2 separate regions of the Homo sapiens genome follow, and region 1 is linked to region 2. The links come from fine-mapping of genetic effects on gene expression. A gene starts in region 2. The other region holds a variant in brackets. All regions are shown on one strand. Distances are between the middles of the regions. Region 1 holds the start of ERFE (erythroferrone). Region 2 holds the start of ILKAP (ILK associated serine/threonine phosphatase).

Region 1 (11,762 bases), 47 kb after region 2:
GGCAGGCAACAGAGCTCCCCAGTGGGCTCCAACCTCCAGCCAAGGATCTACCTCAGTGAAAGCTTCTCCTGGAGTGAGTACAAGGACTGTGCTGGAGGTGGGGGCCCTCGGGGCGGGGCTTTGGCAGGGAAGGACTCTGCTCTGAGTGGGGAGGCAGAGGGCTGAAGCCCGCTCCTGCGGCCAGGCCTCGTGGAGGGAAGAAGACTCTAGGCTGCTTTTGGGGACTTGCATCTCAGGGTCTGCACTGGGCCCGAGTCCACCATCAGCAGGTCCCCACTAGGCTGGGTTGGGACCCGAACCAGAAGCCAGTGAGCCCCCTGTGGGGAGAAGCTTAGGGCAGGGCCAGGAGGCTGGGCAGAGGTAGAAGGCCAGGCCACGAGGACAGCGCGGCCTGTGCACCTGCCTCATGCACTCCGAGCTGGCCTTCCATCGTGTGTTCAGATCCCAGGCAGGTGATACTGGCCCCCAGGGGACAGAGAAGCCCACACCCCGTATTTTCCATTTTGGGGGCTCCAAGCAGGAGGCAGCACCAGGACCAAGCACCAAGTTTCTGCCCAGGCCAAGACCTAAGGCTGAGTGAGGGTGAGAGGGACCCTGTGCCCCTAGTCCCTGGGAGCCAGGCACTCCTGCAGGCCCCTCCAGTGTGGACAAGGTTCTCACCACAGCCTGGGCTAGCCCAGCCTCCCTGGCCTGGATGCAGAGGGAGGAGAAAAGAGGGAGAGCCTGGCATTTTAGGGGTGTGGGGAAATGGTTGGGACCAGGCCCCTAACTCGGGGCTCCCCCTGGGGCTGCCTGGGTTCTCTCTGTTCTCTGTCCCCAGGCCGAGGCGTGAGGGGTGTGCTATTGGAAATGTTCAGGATGTAGGAGTGGGAGTGGATGAGGAGCGAGGAGGCGGAACCCCCCACGGCCTGGCACTGACGGGATGCCGGCCTCACCTTCAGCTTCTTGGCCTTGCCCCTGCTCCTCTTCTTGCCATTGACACCCTTGTCACTCTGCCTGACGAAGAGCATCCAGGCGTCCCGGGGGTCGACGCTGTGTGCACGCTCAGCGGTGGGCTCCTGGAACACAGCCAGCCCAGCAGGGCGGTTGGCCTCACTGGGCTCCTACCAAGCAGGTGGGACACTTTGCAGGAGGTGACTGTGTGGCCTTCTGTACTCTGGGACCCTGGTCCTTGTCACCTGTGGTGCCCTCAAAGGCAGCTCCCAAAGGGGCCCCAACCCCTCACAGCTTCTCCCCCGGCCCGTGGAGGATGACTCCTAGGGAACGGGCCACACCTCGGCCTGGACTTGGCACTCATGGGAGAGGCAGACCCAAGATGCCTGGAGGGAAAATGGGGTGCAGGGCTTGGATATCGGGGTGAATCCCCGTACTGCTGGGCCTCCTTCCTCCAGAGGAGCTGCAGTGATCACACCGTCCTCCAGTCACCAGGAGGATCCGACCACTGGAGCACCCATAGGTGCTCAGGAAGAAGCAACTGTGATTATCAGGGAGCCCAACTACTAGCCAACCCTCCTCTGTCCATCCTCCCCCAGTGTCAGAAGTTCTAAGGAGGCAAATTCAGCTCTCACAGCTGCCTCGGGTTACAGTCCAGTGGGGGAGAGGACCAGGCGAGCTGTCATGACGCGAGGCCTCTGTGTGAGACTTTCATTTCCTCAGCACTTCTGAGACACTGACACATGGACAGTGATGCTTCCGGAAGTTCCCATTCCTGTCCGCGCTGCATCCTGACTGATGCTGACACTGAGCACAGTTTTGGGAGGGACCTTCCTGGGAGAGGCCTTGGGCTATCTGGGCTCCAGGCAAGGCTGCCAGCTGGGAAGGAAACCGGCCCAAGAGGGCTTAGATGAGGTCATGGGTGCTGACGCTGGGGGCTGACGGAAGGACCCTGGGATTTTAGAGCTGACTGGGCCCTTTTATCAGAGACAAAGCCGGCTGCCAAGTCACTGCCTTTGGTTCCTGGCTGATCTGGGGGGATGCAGGGCCTTCTTTTGGGAGCTGGCTGACCAATGCGCAGGCCAGGGTGTTGTGGTGGGAAGATGGGGGCTGCGGTGCCGAGGAGCCTGTGGTTGGGCGGAGAAAGGGTTCAGGGGCCCAGGGCCCTCAGCGCTGCTCAGTGCTTCCTTGTGCCTTAGAGGGTCAACTGCACCACCTGCTGGCTGATCTCCCCTCTACCCCCTCCCAGGACCCTCTTCCACTTCCTGTGTGCCCTCCGTGGAAACATGGGGCGAGGATGCCGCACACCGGCCAGGAGGGGTGTGCCCAGCTGACCCTCCCAGCTGCACCTGTGGCCTGTGGCCGGACCCTGACCCCAGTGTGGTTTGCAGGTAGAGCTGTAACAGGCAGAAGGTGGCGTCCCAGGAGACGGCCCCAGCAATGGGGGTGGGTATTGGGCAGCTGCCCTGGTTCCAGCCACAAGGGGTCTCTCAGAAACAAGCCTTGGAGCCTGGGAGGACCTCTGGTGTCACTGTGTCCCCCACAAACAGGGTCCAAGGCCAAAACTCCACCTGGAAGCCCCTGAGCCCCGTCTGCCTCCTGCTGACAGTGCCCTGACATTTGGCTGCTGTGCCCACCTGGGTGGTTTGGCCAACTGCACGGGGAGGGGGTGCCTTCAGTCCCTGGGAAGTGGCTGGGTGTGATGGGGCCGGGATAGAGAACTCTGGGGGACCCCAGGCCTGGCTGCACCCCTGTCCTCTCTAGTAGATGCGTTCCTGGCTCTCCCCTCTACTGCCCCTGAGCATCTTCAGAATAAACAGCACCGGCCGCCCACCCCGGCTTCCCTGGGGCAGCCCTGTCTCCCTGACCCAAGGCCCGGCCACACTGAGGGCTCCTCTGAAGTTCTCCCCTCCTCAGGCCTGGGCCACACCTCCCCAACCGGACCACCCTCTGCTCAGCAGTCCAGGCTCCAAAACCCTGGAGAGGAGGGGGCAGGGCAGAGCTCAAGATCACCCACTCACGGCCAAAAGCCACCTGATCACTTGACTCAAAGCCACATGTCATTCCCCACCCTGCACAGCCCCCCGACCCCAGATCCGCAGGAAAACACTTTTTGTTTTCCAGATAATTGCACCAAATAGATTGGGGGCGGTGGCAGTAATTCGCTTACACTTTTTACAAATGCGTTCTTCCCAATTTCCTCAAATCAAGTTATTTACACTTTATCTATTTCCCAACTTCCTTCTGTCCCAAAAGAAAAGGGGGGTTTCGCCGACCTAGTAGAACCTTGCTTTAAGTCAAACTACCCCAAAGCCAAAGTCAAGGCTGCCCCGCCGGGCTGAGGGCGGCGTCTACACGGCCCTGAGTCTCTGCGGAGCCCCGGAGCCCCGGTGCCAGGCGATGCAGCAGCCCTCGGGGGTGAGGGCGGGCTCGGCCTCCACGTCCGCCTCCCGCCGCCCCGAGCCGGGGCGTGCGGGCGCGGGCTGGGTCTGGAGCGGGCCCGGGCGTCTTACCGGCGGACGAGCGGCCGGCCCCGCGCGGCTCTCCCCGGGGCCCCGGGGCAGCTCGTTCCCGGGCGGCGGCTCCCTGCGGGCGCGGCTCCTCGAGGGCGCCCCAGGCTCCGGGGACCCCAGGCCCGCGGCGGCGGCGGCCAGCAGGCCCGCGTAGACGAGCAGCAGGCGGGCTCCGGCGGGGCGGCGGGCCGGGGCCATGCGGGCGGCGGTTCCCTCGCGGCTCCGAGCGCGGCGTCTCGGACGCCCCGGGCTCCTCGCCTTATAACGCGCTTGAATCCCCCGCCTCGCCCGAGACCGCGCGCCCGCCCGCGCCCCCTCCCGGCTCCCGTGCGCGCTGCATGGGGATGGGGGGAGTGTCCGGGCGGGGGAGGGGGAGTGGGGGAGGGGGCACGGGGAGCGGGGCAGGGCAGGGAGAGCGAGGGGTGTTCCCCTGCTGGGCGCGTCCCCCCTGCAACTCCTGGTTCTGGGATCCCTCCTTCGCGCTGTCCAGCGCTTCTGCTTCCTGGGGAGCGAGGCGCCCCTTCTCCCAGCCCTGGACCCTCGGCCCTCGCGACCCCATTTTCTTTGCGGGGAGCCAGGCGCTGCCTCCTCCCAGACGGCTCGAGGCATCCTTTCTCCCCGCTCTGTCCCCCACGTCCTCTGCAGGGACCCCCGAGGTACCCCCTCCCCATTCTCCTGGCTGCGCCCCGCAAGGCCCAGGCCTCTATGACACAGGTGGAGCAAATCTGAGCCGGGAGACCCTCAGGGCCCCTTCTCAGCGCCCCTTTCCCAGGCGGGAACTCCCCTTTCCAGGCCGCCCTCCGTCCATGGCTGGCGTGCTCTGAGCGCAGGGATTCACTGTTCTTCCCCACCTGTCGCACCTGCCGGGACCCAGAAGACGCAGGGAGCCAAGAAACAACTCAGGACAGCCGCCCTGCCCTGGTGGGGCTGAGCGGGGCCTGGGCTGGGAGAACTGACCCCTATCGTGCCCTAGCGGGGGTGTGGGGGCAGACCAGACCGGAAGCCAGGCTGCCCACCGCCCACCGGAATCAGTGCCCCCAGAGGTGGACCAGACCCTGCAGGCCTCGGAGAAGGTGGCAGAGAGGCCTCTGGGCGGCCCTACCAGGAAAGAGCCAGCCCCAGCCCCACCCTACCCCTGGCTTTGTTATATCGCATGCCCTTTTGACTATCTGCCCCACCACTGGACGCTAAGCCGAGGAGGGTCGCACACTTGGCTCGCTTGCCCCACCCCCGAGGCACCTGCCCCTGGTGGGTACACAGTGCTTTTTGTTAAAGAACGGGAGAAGGCTCCGCTGGAAAAGTACCTTACACTCACACCGAGGGCTGCTGTTCCCGGGGAACTCTTTTGAGAAGAGCCCGCTGGGGAAAGGAGGCCTTACCCTGTCCTGGTTCACAGGATGTGGCAGCAGGGACTGAAAGGGGCACCAGCAGCCGCAGGTGGTGCCCCCCAGGCTTGGGGATGGGCCA[A/G]GTTCCGTCCTCAGATGCAAGCTGGCCTTTGTCGCCTGCCTTTTCTGGCCACTCATGCGATGTTCCACCTGGCTGGCCTCATGCCTGGCAGGTGGGGAAACCAGGAAATACTTCATACTTTAGGAAAAGCATGGGATCAGAAGGTAATTATTCCCTGTGATTCCACCCCTTTTCCCATAGGATATGGGAATGGTGTAGAGTTGGGTGGGGAGGACGTTTAAAGAAAAACATACCCTGCCCAGCATGAGAATCTGCCCGGCAGGGGTAAGTCCCATGGACTTACTCTGTGAAGATGTCTTTCAATGGCAGGTGAGGACACAAGAGGGAAGTCCTGCCTTTAAAAGCCACAAATGGGCCAGACACGGTGGCTCACGCCTGTAATCCCAGCACTTTGGGAGGCCGAGGCAGGTGGATCACCTGAGGTCAGGAGTTCGAGACCAGCCTGACCAACATGGTGAAATCCCGTCTCTACTAAAACTACAAAAATTAGCCGGGTGTGGTGGCGAGCGCCTGTCATCCCAGCTACTCAGGAGGCTGAGGCAGGAGAATTGCTTGAACCTGGGAGATGCAGGTTGCAGTGAGCCGAGATCACACCACTGCACTCCAGCCTGGGTGACAGAGCGAGACTCCGTCTCAACAAAAAGCCACAAATGATTTTTTTTTTTAAAAAGACCAATACAATGAAAACATTTGAATTCCTATAAAACATGCAAGTCTTTAAGACACATTTGAGAAATATGAGAAACACTGGCTTAGGTCATATGTGCCCAGCAAGATATCTGAACTTATTTCACCTGCAAACATTCTGCAGGTTTGTCACAATTAAGGACATTTGCTCCCAAAATCACGCATATGAGGGAGATGTCTTAAGGCCCTCAGAGAGTGAAGGGTTTCTCTGGTGGGTTTTCATGTCTGGTTCTATTGGAATGTCTGTTAAGAAGCCTGATGTGTGGAACTTTGTCATGACATGTCTGAATGTGACATGCACATTCGGTGTAATGTGTTAACATTTCATTCGGTTTCACTTATTCAGAGGGACTGTATCTGTGGACCACAGGACCCTGGCGTGCCATGTTCTCCTGTACTCTGCTGGTAGAGAGGGGCTCCTGTCCCCAGGAGTTGCAGCTGTGTGAATGGCACCTTCTTGCTTCTGGAGAAGCTCATCCACACCAGCACCTCATTTGATTCCCCACCAATTAGCCCAGAGAGGTGGGCGGCTTGCCCAGGACGCAGCCCATGGGCAGAGCCGGCGTGGGGCTGCAGAGGCCCTCCTGCCCACTGGACAGGTTACATCTTCACGGCCTTATGTTTGGCTTGTTAGGGTTCCTCCTATTCTAGTTGGTGTGAAATAAGAGGTGCGTGATGAGTTGGAGCATTACTGCAGAAAACATAGCCCCATCTTTTCCCTGTGAGGAATGGGCATCCCACAGGTCTGAATTCCCTCTGGGGCCCTGGCTGCAGCTATGGCTCAAGGTGGATGCTGTTTGGCCCCACCCGAGCCCTGGGAAGGTGATGCTCAGGCTCTGCCACCGTCGGCAACACTGAGGATACGCAGGGATGAGGTGCCCTGATTTGGGGAACATTACCCTTAAGATACTAGTGTGATGTCATTCCACTTCGCAGTGGGGGGCCCCAGCTTTCAGGCCAGCATTGAGGACAGGAGCCGTTGCCATGTGAAAAAGTTATTTTCCCAAACAATGAACAATCCTCATGATGTCATGGGCCCTGCCAGAGGCCCAAATCCAATCGGTTCTGGTGCTGGGGCAGCCTCCTGTAACACTATCCTGAGAGGATGACTCCGCCTGGGTTGGGGACAGAGAGCAGAGAGGCCGGGGGTCTTCAGGTGGGGCCCCTGCATGTGTCTGCGTTCACATTTCAAAGTGGCTTTCACTCAGAGGAAGGTGGAGCTTAGCAAAGAATTGCGCAGATCAAGGAGCAGCAGAAATGGGGGCCTCCCCCTGCAGGAGCAGCCCATGGGTCAGAAGTGGGGCTGGCATCGGGGTGAGCCAGGACATCCCAGGATGGAAGAACTAAATGAATGGCCACAGAACGGGGATCACTGGAGCAGGAAGTGGCCTCCCCCATGCGCCTTCACGCCTGGCTGAAATCTAATCCTCATTCTTGGGCCCTCATGTCACGGCCCGGGCCTGGCTTCCCAGCAGCCTGATGCAGCCAAGCTGTTCCCACTCTTCTCTCTTCCTCCAGAGGAAGGACCTTTGCCGATGAAGTCATGGGAATAAAACCTCCCTCTGCCCTGAAAACAGTGGGACCGTGAAGTCAGCTTGTTGTGTGGCCTCCAGAGGCCCAGGCGGGTAGCCTTCGCTGTTTACTGGGCCTTGCAAGCCCACGACGTCATCTAATTTGCAAATCGTGTGATTATCCCCATTGCACAGATGAGGAAACTGAGGCTCAGATCTTGGGATTGGCCCAAGGTCACAGAGCCAATAAATGAAACCACATCCAGGTCTGGCCCCTACAACTTGAGGTCAGTTGCTCTGGAGAACCTACAGATTTAGTTCAGTTCAGTGAGCATTTGTGCAGTTGTGCAGTTCCCATGACGTGCCGGCACCAGGCCGAGCACTCGGAATACATTGTGGCCTCCTGCATGGGTGTGTGGGCAGTCTCGGGTCTCTCGGGAGACAATTCTTTCTCACTCCTGCCCAGAGGGTCTCTTGAGTTTTCTGCTAATTGTCTACATGTTTTTAATAGATTAATTAAAATAATCATCTTTAGCTCTCCTCTCAGTTGAATGCAATGCCATTTTGGAAAGAATCACATTCTTAAATGTGACTGTGATCAAAATCGTCTTGGCTTCTGAGGGAGTCATGATGTCTCCTGGGGTTTGTTCCAAACAGGATACTTCCCCCATGGAGATTCCTGTCCTAGTCTACCTCAGTCTCAGTGACAGCCACACACCTGGCTGCCCTGCCACGTACCTGGTGCTGCAGAGTCCGGGAGAAGCAGCCACACTTCAGACCGATCAGCTGATACCACGCCGGGCACTGGGGAGGGACGGTGAATGACACGGCCCCGGAGGTGCAGCATCTTTCCTGTGTACGTGGCTGTGCCCTCTCTCCTTAAGCCATTGGCACATTCTCCATCCATACACATGCTTTCAGCTGGATCAACTGATGGCCCAACCAACTGGAGTAGTGGCCTGTATCCTTCTGTTTTCTTGCTATAAAGGAAAATGTGAGGCTGGGTAATTTACAAAGAAAAGAGGTTTATTTGGCTCACAGTTCTGCAGGATGTACAGGAAGCATAGTGCCAGCATCTGCTTCTGGTGAGGCCTCAGGAAGCTTCCACTCACGGTGGCAGGGGAAGGGGAGCAGGTGTGTCACACAGTGAGGGAGCAAGGGAGAGCAGGGGAGGTGTCAGGCTCTTTAACGATCAGCTCTCCGTGAACGCACCAGCGTTACTGCACCATGCCATGCCTGAGGGATCCGCCCCCATGATCTAAACGCCTCCCACCAGGCCCAACTCCAACACCAGCGATCAGACTCAACAGACTCAACATGAGATTCGGAGGGGACAGATCTCCAAGCTATGTCATGGTCTATACTGACTATGGAAAACTGTCAGGTGACCAGTCCATTTAATTACAGTCACATGAGGGTGTCAATGGCCTGATCCCAGCAACCACTGTCCCTGCCTGAATAGAGAAGATGCCAGATAATAAAAGGGGCCTGTCTGTGAGGTGTTGGAAAACTCAAGTCCGGTGGAAGTGGCTGGAAGCATGCCTAGGCCCCAGCTTACTTGGGGACCCGGGGGAGCTGAGATACAGTTGGCAGTGCTGGGCCTGGCTGAGGGCCCTGTGTGCTCACTGAAGGCTGAGGGGCCTCAGTTTACCCAGCATCCTCTATGGGAAAGACAACACGCACCTACCTGGAGGACATGAGCACATGGGGCCTGGAGGTGGGTTTCGCCCGCACACCCCTGTGGGCATTTGCACATGTTCCAAGGCTACGCGCTCCCCTTTCTAGAAGCCCATATTAGCCTCAAGCCTTCTAATGAGTCCTTGCTGTCCTGGATTTTGATGATGGAAGGGGATACCTTGGCTGCCCTATGGCTGTCGCTTGGTGAGTGAGTGCATTAATGTCCCTTCGTGCAAAGCTCTCAAGTGGGTGACGTGTGCCGGACCTTCTGGCCGCCGTCCTGGTGCCCTGGCCACCTTCTCCACCTGTTCTGTGTCCCCAGGTGGCCACTACAGCCTGTCAATGGCCTCTCTTCCCTCTGGGTTCTGGTTGGGCTTGGCCTGTAGGAGGCGCTAGTGGGAGACAGGGGGCAGGCCAGAGAGAGAGGGCAGATGGACTCTGCCACCTCCTCCCAGCTGGACAACAGGGGTGGTGGCTGCGTTCCCCCGCCAAGGCCCTCTCTCAGCAGCTCCCTGGAGTCTGCGTCTGCCCTTTCCCTTCTCCCAAGACGGGGTGGGGGGGGTGGCACTCCCACTGCTGCTGTCCTGGGATGCCTCTCCAGCCACTGGGCTCCCTTCACCCTGCCCACAGCATGGGGAGAGGCCGTCGTGAAACTCTCCTTAGCCACTCACCTCAATACCCAGCAGACGCCCCTTTCCTCCTGGTGCCCTGAAGGCTGCGATGGCCCCCTGAATCAGGAGCCCAGCTGATCGGACGAGGTGCACTTTGGCACCTCAAAGCTGGGAGCCAGGCCCTGGAGAGGCCCACTCCTTCCACCCGAGGACCGCCCATATTCCCATAGGGTGTGCAAGGGTGGACAGCAGGCGTTGCTCTGGCACGCCGCCCTTTTGGCTACTTTGTGATCAAAGCCAGCCTATTTTGACATTTCATGTCTTCAGTTTTATTTTTATTTATTTTAAAATATTCTTGCAGAAATGGTTTACATGGAGGCTTTGTTTTTAAACAGCCCTTTGGCTGACCTCCTTCCATCACTGTCTAGAAAACATTTCAGATTTCCACATGGAAACAGAGCCCAGGGCCCCAGAAACCCTCACCCTTGCTTCATCCAATCCATCTGCCACCGAAGGTCTCCTCAGCTCTGGGCTCTTGTTCCTTTGGTAGCACCCAGAGGCCCCACTCTGTCTGGCCCTCCAGGGTCAACTCACTTCTCCCACACCTTGTAATCCCAGCACTTTGGGAGGCTGAGGCGGGCGGATCACCTGAGGTCAGGAGTTCAAGACCAGCCTGGTCAACATGGTGAAACCCTGTTTCTACTAAAAATACAAAAATTAGTCAGGCGTGGTGGCGAGTGCCTGTAATCCCAGCTACTTGAGAGGCTAAGGCAGGAGAATCTCTTGAACCCGGGAGGTGGAGGTTGCAGTGAGCCAAGATCTCAGCATTGCACTCCAGCCTGGACGACAAGAGCGAGACTCCGTCTCAAAAAAAAAAAAAAAAAAAAAAAAAAGCTATGAGAGGCAGGTCTGGGAGCAAAGCAGATCCCTACCTACAGAAGCTCAAGAGGCTCAGGGGTTTCCGTCCTCAGAACCCAAGGATGTCAGAGGCCCCTCTGGTCCCCAGGGGCGGGGGGTGTTAAGGAGGAACCCAGGGGCTGGTCCTGGAGAGGAAGCCTGGATCCGGCGGGAGACCGGAGCTGCCCAGGGCCTCTGGGGCAACACCAGGGCCTGTGCCTGGCCGGGCCCGACTCCTGACTTCTAGCCCCATGTCCCAGGGCGGAGCCTGTGACAGGAGGGACACGCCATTGGGCACCCAGGGAGAGTCCTTCATTGTCTCCTTAGCTGCAAAGGTGGGTGCCTCATTCAGGATGAGGGAGAAGCCACTCGGAGCCTGAGCCAGCCGGAGTCGGGCTGCATGCTGGCAGGGGCCCATCGGATGCTACCCCTCACCCTCAGGAGGCTGCCACCAATGCACCCAAGAGTCGTCCCCTGGTGGGAAATTCCATTCTAATGAAGAGCCTTTGTTCTGACACACAGAGACGGAGGCAATCCCTTCTGAGAGCAAAACTGCTCACCTCCCTGGGACCCTCCAGCCCCGCCCCACGCCCTGCCTCCCTCCTTCCTGGTGCCTCTGTGGGCACCGCCCTCTGGGTGCAAGAGATGGGTGGGGGCCTCCTTTGTCCACAGAAGCAGAAACACAGCACCAACATGCAAAGCCTGAGTGGGGACCCAAAGCCCACACAGCCAGCCCCGTGTGTGGTGGACGCGGAGCTTGAAGCCCAGAGAGGGGAGGTGGCTGGCCACAGTTACGCTGCCGTGAGCTGGGCAGAAGCAGGCCCACGAGGACCTGGTGCTGATCCCATCTCCGGGGCCTGCCTTCCCCAGCAGCCTCAGCTTTCTGGGACGCTCCGTGTTCACCCCACATTCATGCAACTGCTCCAAAAGCCCCTGCTGGGGTCCAGGGGCAGGAGTGGGGCTCGCAAGCTCTGGGAATGCTGGCCCGGCCCCCGGCTCCCCTCTCTGAGGTCTCGGGAACCCCAGGGGCAGCAGAGCTTCCTGTCCCTGTTATGCCAGCGTCTGGCACTCAGGCCCTTGTCACTGCTCAGCTCAGAGTTTAGTGTGGTGGCCACAGAGACCAAGGCTGTGTCCTCCAAGCCATGCCGTCTGATCACCCCTGGTGGCCTGAGCGCAGCTTGGAAGGAATGGTAGCTCCGAGTGAACAAATAAGCGAAAATGAAAGGGGCCGTTCCACAGGCTGATGAGGGGCCGCTGTGGGGACTCCTCCCCGGGGACCCTGGCCCTGGTTTAGTGCTCCTGGGTGGGGCCGGAGGGCTGGGTCCACTTGGAGACATCCAGGAAGACGGTGGAGGCCCCGTGGTAGAGCCAGAGCCGGGGCAGGGCGCCGTGGCGGGTCCAGGTGTCCCGAACCGTGTCGTAGGCCTCCATCTCCACGTGGTAGTCACCTTCCATGCCCTGCCAGC
Region 2 (11,762 bases):
TGCTATATCCCTTTATGAACACACAAAAGAAAATCTTGACCAACTCCTCACTCCCACCCCAGATCTTTATCATGCTTTCTCTCACCTAAAACGTGTGTTATTACAGGCCCCCACTTTAGGCCTTCCAAACCCCCTAAGACCTTTTAATCTGTATTTACACAGTTCTCATAATCAGGCCCTTGGTCTATTAGCCCAACTCATGGCAAACTCCCTCCAACCAGTGGTATATTTTCAAAACAACTAGACCCCATTTATAAAACCTGGCCCCCTTGCTTAAACATTTTGGTCACAACAGCAGCAATAATTATTCCTGAGGCACAAAATCTCATGTTTTATGAACCTCTTCAGGTATTTTCTTCTCACAGTCTACAAGATATGCTCAGCCACAAGGTGCTCACCTCCAGCTCATCCTCTCGCAGGCAAGCCCTACTTTCAACTCTCCTTCAACCCTCTATATCTCTTCATAGATGCTCCCTGACTAACCCCGCCACTCTTTACCTTCAACACCAATTTTAGACCCCGACCAACACTCATGCTCTGATCTAACTGGAAGTTCTCTATGTATCACCGCCTTACTTGCACTCACATAAAAGGAGACCCAGATTGGTTTATAGATGGGAGCACATCAAAACACTCTCCCCTCTAAGCAGGATATGCCATCATTGAAAGGATATCATGATGATACCCACTCTCTCCCACCTAGAAAGCCATAGAGGCTGCCCCCTTGCCTTTGGGCACATCCTCCCAACAAGCAGAATTAGTTGCCCTAATAAGAGCACTAACTCTAGCAGAAAACACACAAGTGAATATATACACTGATTCTAAATATGCCTGTAACGTTATCCATTCCAATGCCCAAATTTTGAGTGAGCAGGGCTATCTCATAGCTAAGGGAACCCCTATCATTAATGGAAAACTCATCCATCATCTATTAAAGGCAGCTATACTTCCAGAAAAGGTTGTGGTTATCCATTGCAAAGGACATCAATCAGACAAAAGCCACATTCCTTTAGGGAACCATGAGGCTGACTATTGGGCCAAACACGCCTCAGCCAACGACCCAATTCCCCAATACTTATTTCCCCTCACACAACATATGCCCTCCTTTTATCCAGAACACCAAACACAACAACCAATCACAGTAGGGGCAGACAATTTAAACCCCCATACTGGTTCATACAAAACAAATTAGTCCTACTTGACCCTGAAAAAACAATTTCTTCTATGGGACATTCACAACCTCTTCCACACTAGCCATTCCCCTCTACAGCATTTCTTAAGTTCCCATATATACATAACCCCAGACATAAAGGAACAGTTAAAAGCCATTTCCCATCAATGCTCTGTTTGCAAAAAAGCTTCACCCCACTTCAACACTAGACCCTCTTCTTTTCTAACCCATCAATCCAAGGGACACCTTCCAGAACAGGACTGGCAAATTGGTTTTACCCACATGCCCCCAGTAAAAAGGGTTTGATTTCTTTTAGTTCTGGTTGATACCTTTTTGGTACGGGTCGAGGCCTTTCCCACAACCAACAAACGAGCTCCTACTCTCCAAATTAATAACAGAAATCATCCCCAGGTTCGGGGTGCCTCTTTCTTTTCAATCTGATAATGGCCCTGAATTCATTTCTCAAATTATTCAAACACTTGCACAAGCCCTACAAATCACCTGGAAGTTGCACCTCCCCTCTCGACCTCAATCTTCAGGAAAGGTTGAAGAAATGAATGGCATTCTACAAAAACACCCTCACCAGGTACTCACACCAAACACATAAAGACTGGGTTACACTTTTGCCTTTAGCCCTTCTAAAAATTCGGGTGCTCCAATGTAAACTTCTAACGCTCAGCACCTTTGAACTCATGTATGGGAGACCATTTGCCCCTCTGCTCCACCTCAGGGTCAAGCCCCACCTCCACCAATCCCTCTCATTTCCCCTCTTGTACATACCATCTGCCATTTCATTTAGGAATATGCTGACAAATACCTGCCACAACCCATCACCGACTCCTTTAATCCCTCCCTACAGCCAGGAGACTGGGTTCTGGTAAAATACCCCAGTCCTACCCTCAATTCCTGCTTCACACCTAAGTGGAAGGGACCTTACCAGATCATCCTTACCACACCCACAGCACCGAAACTCCAGGGACTCCCCAGCTGGTTTCATTGTACTTCTCTCAAGAAAACAGACTTCCCTTCACCACATACCCAAACAACCAAGTCTGAAACCCCTTCGGCCTTCTCTCGTGTCTCCCAGGACCCACTTCTCTTCGCCTCACCCAAATCCCTGAGGAAAAGGAGGAGAAATCCACATAAGCCGCTTATGTCTCTTTCTCTCCCAAACTTTCATCACTTCCTAACTAACCTTGTTACAGACCTTCAGTGGTGCCCTTAGGAAGCTCCCATTATACATCCTGATCAGCTCGTTACTGCTCTATGGGACCTATGGCTTCAAGGAACTTTCCAGGACTTTACTCCTACCCAAATAACTTTTTTCGCTTTTTGCTTGTTTCTTTCAATATAAATTCCCTAATCACATCAACCTCATCAATACAACCACTCCTCACTGCTCTCAAACTAGAACGCTCTATAAACCTTACACAATCTCTCTTGCGGCAAGCTAACTCTTCCTTTGCTCTGGAATGCTGGGTGTGTTTATCGCTGTCTTCCTTAGCTTACACAGCCCTTCCTACATTCCTTCATGACCTTTTAACAGGAAACACAACCCTAATTTATAAACTCCAAAAAGGAGCTTCCTTTTTTGAAAGAGCTGACACTCTAGTCGGTGATTATCCCACTTCCAGGGCCGATCAGGCCAACAAATTATTTCAAACCTAGGATAACTCCCTACAGCGCCTTAAGCCCCACGGCCCTCCCATTGAAGGGCCCATAACTAAACACACTCCTCCTCTTATAATGAGCCTCACTTTGCTTTTCAGCCTCGGAGGGAAATTTCCCTGTAGGGTCCTTAACATCTAACCTATGCAACCACACTATCATTGTTAAACACCCCTCTGACCATCAAACTAACCAGGCTAACTACCAAGTATCACCTGAAGCGAACGGAGCATTTCTGCAGCTGGCTCGTTTGACAGCCTTTCCCTCAGCCAATGCCTCCAGCCTAACCTGTGCTGCTCCTAGTGCCCACAATTTTCCTTGGCTCAATATCAATAGTGCAGCATCCGACCGCATTAAATCTGTAAAAAATAACTCTTCCTATACCTCTAGTATAGTAGGTGTCTCCCAGGCCTCCTCCTTGTCCACCTGGAGTAATGAACCACAGGAAAGAACAAACACCTCATCTTTAATTCACTTATTTTCTGTCCATATCTCTGCTTGTATTTACAATAAAGGCTTGTTCTTTTTGTGTGGTCTCAACACATATTTCTTTGTCTCCCCATCAACCAGACCAGAACCTGTACCCTAGTTTATCTTTCTCCCTCCATTGGACTAGTTCCTCCTAATCAATCTTTACCCGTTCCATCCATCCAATATGTTAGGAAGAGGAGAGCCATCCACGTCATTCCTTTAATGGCTGCCTTAGGTATAACCTCCGGGCTTGGGTTGGGAGCAGGCTGATTCGCCACCTGCTTAACATACTTGAAATCTCTTTCAACAGAACTGCAGAGTTCATTAGAGCATATGGCCCAAAGCCTTATAAGAGTCCAAGGCCAACTAGACTCCTTGGCTGGAGTAGACTCCTTGGCTGGAGTAGTCCTCCAAAATAGACAGGAATTAGATGTTATAACAACTGAAAGAGGGGACCTCTGCCTCTCATTCGGTAAAAAATGTTGCTTCTATCTCAATCAGTTGGGCCTAGTAAGAGACGCTGCTAAAAAACTTAAAGAAAGGGCTAAAAAGCTAAGAGAATAACAAGACAACCAAATAAATTACTGGTTTAAAAACAAAGTCCTAATATGGGTCATCCCATTCCTGGGCTCTCTCCTAAAAATATGCCTAGGAATAATGTTCTTACCCTGCTTAATTAACCTTTTTCTAAGTTTTTTTTATTTTTTTGAGACGGAGTCTTGCTCAGTCGCCCAGGCTGGAGTGCAGTGGCGAGATCTCGGCTCACTGCAAGCTCCGCCTCCTGGGTTCACACCATTCTCCTGCCTCAGCCTCCCAAGTAGCTGGGACTACAGGCACCCGCCACCATGCCTGGCTATTTTTTTTTTTTTTTTGTATTTTTAGTAGAGACGGGGTTTCACCATGTTAGCCAGGATGGTCTCGATCTCCTGACCTCGTGACCCACCCGCCTTGGCCTCCCAAAGTGCTGGGATTACACGCGTGAGCCACCGCGCCTGGCCACCTTTTTCAAAGATTTTTAACCAGCAGGATCATGGCCATCTCACAGACAATTACCCAAAAACATCTACAGACAGCGTTACTCCTACAATCAATCTGAAACCAAAGAACTCTCTGCTCACTCCCCCAGCAGGAAGTAGCCAGAAAAAATGCGCTGCCCCTTGTCCTTTTCATAACTATAGAGACTGGATTGATAGAGCAGGAGCATTGCCATCTTGGACAAACACCACCTTTCTAAGTTCCCCTTGATTAAAAAACCACCTAAATCCTACCCCAAAACATCAGCCTAACGGCTAATGTCAGCATAACCAGAAATATTCCAACCCTAAGATAAACCTCTCTTCAACCAGAAACATGCTAACCCTGAAATAACCTCTCCTCCAATAGCCTCCCCTCCGACCAGAGACATTCCAACCCTGCAATAAACGTTCCCCCACTTCCAAAACCCTTAAATATCCTTAGTCTGTAAGAGAGAATGCTTAGTCTGTAAGAGAGAGCGCTCCTGATCGAAATTGGCCAGAATCCCCTCTCAGGTTTATTCTCTGAAATAAACCTTTTAATGTTGAGCCGCTTTTTGTATTTATTTCCTCTTTCTTTAACGGTTACAAGCATTGTTACTTGAGTGTTTCTGCTGTAATGGAGGAGGCAGCATGAATATCTCAAACGGTTGCTAGTGAGAAGCCACGCAGATGAGAGGCATGAAGCCTTGTTGGGCTCCCTCCATGTCCTACAGCCAGAGAGCGTCAGAAATACATCTGCCCCAGAATGAACTGGGCTGAAAACTCTTTGCATGGAGGGAGACCACATAACCTGGGGAACTTGGGTAAACGATGTTGGAACGGAGGTGTAAGATTTGGGTTTGTGTTAGTTGATTTGGGGAAACATTTATGGAAACGGGCCTTTGCTCCGGATTGGATGTCAGGAAGAGGAGGATTCCATGATTGGATATCTTGATGAAGCTTATCTAGACGGCAGGAGGACGAGACAAAGGCTAAACATGTAATGGTAAAGAAGCAGCAATCACTCTTATTGGCCAAGACGAGGGGAATGTGGTCACTTTTGTGGCTTGGACAGTGTTCCTGTTTTGTCTGTGTTCACACTTGATTACACAGTGGTCTGTTTTTTTCTCTTGATCTGTATCACGGCCTGATGTTGGTGTTTTATGAAATTGTTCACATTCAAAGAGAACACCCAGGCCTAGCTGTTTGTGCCAGACCAACCCCAAGTCCTGGCTGCAGAACCAGGCCAGCTCCCCGATGTCAGTGGCCGCCTTTCTCTTTACAGGCATGGAGGGGGACACCATTAAGGAGGAGCCCCTCTTCTCCGCTCCCCACAGACACCAGTGGGTGCAGACAAGTCAGGGAATGCCTCCTTTCCCTCCGGCATCTTTTGAGGTTTCCGTCCTGACGCCCAGGGCCGCTCCATCCAAGCCTCGGTTTCTCAGTCTCTAAAACAGGCCAGAAACCAGGCACGCCGTGGTGAAAGGACGAGCCGAAGAGATGGCAAGAGCTCCAGAAAGCCTTCCCAGGCATCAGGGGCTGCCCTTGAGCTCAGACGTTTCTCTCTGGACAGGGCTTCTTGGACAGGAACTCAACGAAACTTGACAGAAATCGGACACCCCCAGCCAAGGAAAAGCAGGAGGGGCCCGGGGTTCGCCAAGGCGGGAAACACCGCGGGGCCCAGACGGCGCCGTCCGCCCGGCTCGCAGTCGGGGCGCGGGAGGGGCCCACGCGCATGCGCACCGCCCCGCCCCCAGCCGCCCCGCCCAGCCCGCGCGCAGCCCTCTGGGGCGGCCGGGCCACGCCGCGCGCCGATTGGTGGCGTCCGGGACTCTCCCTGCAGGTGACTGACGGCGCCGGCCGCCCCTGCCCGTCGCCCGCCCGCTGCTGCCGCCCGCCCGGGGTGTGGAGCCCGGCCGCTGCTCGCGGGCTGAGTGTCTGTCGCTGCTGCCGCCTCCACCCAGCCTCCGCCATGGACCTCTTCGGGGACCTGCCGGAGCCCGAGCGCTCGCCGCGCCCGGCTGCCGGTAAGCGGCGTTGCCGCCGGGCCGGCCAGGGAAGGGAGAGCAGGCGGGATGGGGGCGGCCTGAGGCCCGGGGCGGCTGAGGCGGCGCCCGCGCTGGGAGGCGGCGGGCGGCGCGGGCTGCACGGGGCCTGCTCCTGCCTGGCCAGGCCCCGTCCGGCCCACTGGCGGCCCTGTCGGAGGCCCGGTCGCTCGCGGAGCTCGGAGAGGCCGCTCCGCCATTTTCGCTACGCAGGAAGGAAAGGGCCGAGCCGTCGTGGCCACGGCCCCTCTGCGTGGCGGTGAAAGGCGCCGGCGCGACCGCGTGGGCCGACCCGAGGGACCGGCTCTGAACGCCCGGCGGCACCGCGGGCCCCCGCGCCCCGATTCCACCCGCGGCCTGGGCTGCCTTGCGCGTCGCCCGCCCGCGGCTTCCGGGCCGCACTTCACCCGCGGGCTGTGGAACGGCCGCGTTCCGGGCCGGTGCAAGTTCAGGGGCTTGGCGTTTTTATTTGCACTGGAGATTGAATTAATCACCATCTTAATCCTTCGTGTTTTTGAAGCCTGGAAGACAGGATGCCTCCTCTGTCATCCTGTGATTTTGTGATAATTAACAGTAGTTTTTTTTTTTTTTTTCTGGTCCACGGGAAGTTCCCCCTCTCCTTGAAGTTAAGGGGTCCGCTCATCTCCTAAGCGCTGGCCCCTGCCAGTGGGAGTCCCTGTGGGCTGTGGTTTGAGCTCAGCATCCTAGCAGCTTGAAACAGGGCCTGTGTTAATCCCTGCGTCCTGTGGGTTACAGTCTCCGGGTTTCATCTGTCAAAACGCGTGAATATTTCATATGCAAGACTTCCAGCTTGATGTTGTAGTTTAGGGCCTTATTACAAAATTTAACTTGGGGGCAGAAAACCTGGAAAACTTAAGACGTTCAGATTTCCAGGCCCACCTCAGCCCCAGTAAATCCGAATCCCTGAGAGTGGGGTTTCCGAATCTGTTACTAAATCCCCAGGCCAACCCAGCGGGGGCTGGAGACCAGTGGTTTGGGAGCTGCTGTTGTAGGGTAGACGGAGGTGAGTAAGGCCCAGCCTTCGCTTTCTAAGAGCTGCTTTCTGAAGGGTACTAATTACGGTAATTAAAACTGGCAAAAGTTAATGACTGTGGGAAATGCTGAGGACTCTTGAGGAGGGATTGTCGGGCACCGAGAGACTGGGGAAGGAGGCAGTGTTTGAATTGAGCTTCCAAGGATGTTCAGGCTTGTGATTTGCAGTAATTCTGGGCGAGAAAACATTTTATTTTATTTTACTTTTTGAGACGGAGTCTCACTCTTGTCGCCCAGGCTGGAGTGCAATGGTGAGATCTGAGCTCACTGCAACCTCCGGGTTCAAACAATTCTCCTGCCTAGGCCTCCCTACTAGCTGAGATTACAGGCGCCGACCACCACACCCGGCTAATTTTTATATTTTTAGTAGAGACGGGGTTTCACCATGTTGGGTAGGGTGGTCTTGAACTCCTGACCTCAGGTGATCCGCCCGCCTCGGCCTCCCAAATTGCTGGGATTACAGGTGTGAGCCACCGTGCCCTGCCCCCACTGACCGTTCTGATGGTACAGAGCATCTCAGTAACTGGTCCTGGAGTCTTTGAACTTGACTCAGCCATTCATTTTCAAAATAACCACGGTTTTAGCTGTGGGTAAAAATTGGATTTGTGTAGCAGTCTTTTTTCTCTTGTCAATGGAGTATAATTTCTATCTGAATATATTTGGGACAGCATTTGGATTCACCAGTGTGCGTGTAAACCTATGAGTCTTAAAATCTCCATTGCTTTTTACCTGCAATTAATTAGGTTCTGCTCAGGAGCAGGCTCCCTTGACTGACAAAAAACCTGGCAACTCAGAATCTCATAGGTTGGCACCTTAGCAGCCTTTTGCCAGATACAGTGGGAAAGGTACATCCTGTTGCCGTTTTTTCCAAACTCAGTTTCCAACCTTGACTGAGCTGAAAGGGTGGCAGAGGGGGTGCATGGTGTTTAAACTGCTGACCACCCTGAGATTGGATTGGTCAGCTGCTCCCCATCTGCCAGGAGGGCACTGACATTGTCAACAGGTCCTGCTTGGCTGAGTGTATTTTTAAAAATAGCTTTAAAACGAAGAAGATCTCAGAATTTGTAGATGATTGGAAGCTGAGAGGGATAAGTACTAAAATGAGTGACAATTGGGATCCATAGTTATCATTGCAGGCTGTTAGCTACAACCAACAAGATGAGATTTGACAGGTTAAAATCGTTTGTACAAGAACAGAATCTGGTTTCACATACTTGTGAAAATACTGTGATTTAAAAAAAAAAAACATACTTTGAATAAATCATATTGATTGCTAAAGTGAATGGAATAATGAGTCTAAACTGTGCATCATGACCCTCACACATGATATGTGGGTACCACAAATCTCTAATGCAGTGAACAATAAAAGACCTCGTTATTTTCCCAGAGCGCAAGAAAAGTTGTTCAGAAAGTGTAACCAGACTACTTGGTTTAGAATCCAGCTCTTCGCTTACTAACTGTGCCTTCTGTGGCTATTCCTACATGTGTAAAAAGGGGTGACACTTGCCACTGTTACTGTACAAATTAGTACAGTATGTATGGTGCTGCACATAGTGTGGGGTAGAATGTATAGTGTTTTATAGATGTTAGCCAGGGTTATTATTTTTGAGACAGCCTCATTGTGTCGCCCAGGCTGGAGTGCAGTGACATAAACACAGCTCACTGCAGTCTCGACCTCCGTGGGCACAGGTGATTCTTCCACCTCAGCCTCCTTGGTAGCTGGGACTACAGGTGCGCACCACCACAGCCAGCTAATTTTTGTATGTTTTGTAGAGACAAGGCTTTGCCATGTTGCCCAGGCTGCTCTCGAACTCCTGGGGCTCAAGTGTTCTGCCCACCTTGGCCCTCCCAGAGTGCTGGGATTACAGTGGTAAGCCACTGTGCCTGGCTGAGCCATTAACAGTTGTTTAAAAGTGGAAAAACGCAGTCTTAAATGAATTATGGGAAAGCACTGAGTGTCCAAAGGGAGAATACTACACTGCTTATATCACATCAAATGTATTAATATTTTGTTTAGATCTTTTTATTTTTGTTTTAAACGTTGCATCTAATGTTCCCACCCCTAAACCTCTTAAATGTTTATAATCTAGAAAAATACATAGAATGCACTAAATATTTCAGGTATTTTGCTAAATTAGTAGTTTTCATCCAAGCCCTTAAAAGTTTTAATTGCTGAATGAATCAAGTTTTTTAAAGGAGAGATGTATATATTTTACCTAAAAAAAAGTGTTTGTTCATATCAGGCAGAAATGGAACTTTCCTATGTCATACCCATAAAAGTGCCGACCTGATGTCTTTAAGATTGGCAGCTTATATTGACAATCCATGTATGTCAGTTGAAGGTGTCATGGTTTAAAATTGCTTCGCCAGTAACTTGATTTCACTTTTATAGGGTGGTTCTTTTACTTATTTGGTTGCTACACTAGTACTTTAAAAATTGATGGTCAGTTGTTGAGGAGGAAATAAAATATTTGATGGCCACACCATCTTAAAAATACTTTAAAAAAATTGGAGGCTGGGCTCGATGGCGCATACTTGTAATCCCAGCGCTTTGGGGGAACAAGGCAGGAGGATGGCTTGAGGCCAGGAATTTGAGAAGAGCCTGGCACAACTTCGTGAGACCCCTGTCTCTACGATTAAAAAAAAAAAAGAAGAATATTTGAACATAAAGGTTAAGGTATTAGAGGAAAACAGATTGTAAAACTACAGGGTTGAACAAGAAAAAAGTCATAAAAAAGTGAATTTGACTATGTAAAAATTTAAAATTTCTGCAGGACAAATGATACTATAAAGGCAAAAGACAAACCGAGAAAATAATTGCAATATACATTACTAAGGGTATAAGAAAGGCTCACAGAATTGATGGGAAAAAATAAAACCCACTAGAAAAATGGTCAAAGGATGTATCCTCCCAGTTCAGAGGTAAGGAATACAAATGGCCCATCAACAGAAAGTTGCTGAGGAACTATTTACCTTTTCACCCATCAGATTAGCAACAGTTGGTAACATTGGTGAATGTGTAGCGAAGTAGACTTTCTCATAAAGTGTTTTGGGAGTGAAAATTACAACTTTTTGGGGAACAGATTTTGGCTTCTATCAGATTTAAACTAATATCCTTTGACGAGCAGTCTAGCAGATTAAGCAGGAATACATGTATCAGATTGTTGATTGTGGCGTCACTTATCATATGAAGAACTGGGAAAAGCTTGAACCCATCAGTAAGGATCTGGTCGAATGAGTGGAGATGCTTCCCATGTGTGGCTGTTGGAGAGGATGAATTAGACTTGGGTGTGTTGGCCTGGAGCATGCCTTGATGGGTTATGTGAACACTATATGTGGAGTATTGTGTAGAGTATGACTCTGTCTTCTACAAATTAAAATGCATGAGTCCATGTGCATGAGCATTAAGGAAAGTGGAAAGGATACACTAAACTCATACTGTGGTTGGGGGGTGTGGCGGAACCTGTCCCCCCTTTTTTCTGATAATACCTCTGTGGTGTTTGGAAAACACCTGGATTTATTTTATAGTTGAAAAAATTGAGGTATAAAAAACAATTTAGCCAAAATATTTTAACATCCTTTTTTAACTTTATTGGATACAGCAACCTTTAACCTGAATATGATCAACCCAAGGGTATTTTTCTCAGCATAGTATATAACTTCCAGTAGACTTAGCTCCAGAATGTAGATAACTGAGGAAAAAAAAAAGTTCTAGATGAGATTAACTATGATTAATGGACATTTTTAGTCTTGTATTCTTATTAGGGTTCTAATATTTTTAAGATTAGGGGAGGGGCCTCTTCCAGATTTTTAGGTCAGGGTCACACTTTGTCCAATGATTGCAGCCCCCAATGCTTTGAATTTCAGTTTATTCAAAATAGAATGTAAGGGCCTGGAGCAGTGGGTCACATCTGTAATCCCAGCACTTTGGGATGCTGAGGCAGGAAGATTGCTTGAGTACAGTAGTTCGTGACCAACCTGGGCAACATAGTGAGACCCCGTCTCTACAAAAAGTTAAAAAATTAGCTGGGCATGGTGGTGTATGCCTGTAGTTTCAGCTACTCGGGAATCTGACGAGGGAGGATTGCTTGAGCCCAGAAGGTTGGGGCTGCAGTGAGCTGTGATCACACCACTGCACTCCAACCTGGCTCACAGAGCGAGACTCTTGTCTCAATTTAAAAAAAAAAAAATCTAAGGTTTTGACTAATCAGTAGTTTCCTTATGTATCTATGACCTATAGATTTTTTTTTAAAGAATCCACATACAGACTTCTAAGTTAGATTCTTTTGATGATGCAAAAATTATTTCCAGAGATTTTATAAAATCTCAGGATTATCATCATAGGATTGTTGTAAGGGT

What was found. PIP is the estimated chance that this variant, and not a neighbour inherited with it, causes the effect.
Region 1: its variant is fine-mapped to the expression of ILKAP in whole blood (TOPMed, PIP above 0.99).

What each region holds. Positions count from the first base shown.
Region 1 is chr2:238,150,890-238,162,651 of GRCh38, reverse strand. ERFE (erythroferrone) reads right to left here and starts at 3,682. Exons shown (of 8, transcript NM_001291832.2): 1 at 3,447-3,682; 2 at 936-1,058. The coding sequence starts at 3,644. KLHL30 (kelch like family member 30) reads right to left here. Exons shown (of 8, transcript NM_198582.4): 8 at 9,705-11,762. The coding sequence ends at 11,587. RefSeq lists a silencer at 3,635-3,704 and an enhancer at 8,871-9,370. The variant A/G (reference allele first, on the strand shown) is at 4,914.
Region 2 is chr2:238,198,069-238,209,830 of GRCh38, reverse strand. It overlaps ILKAP (ILK associated serine/threonine phosphatase), which reads left to right and starts at 6,136. Exons shown (of 12, transcript NM_030768.3): 1 at 6,136-6,332. The coding sequence starts at 6,278. RefSeq lists enhancers at 5,255-6,127, 7,090-7,149 and silencers at 5,940-6,509, 6,630-6,719.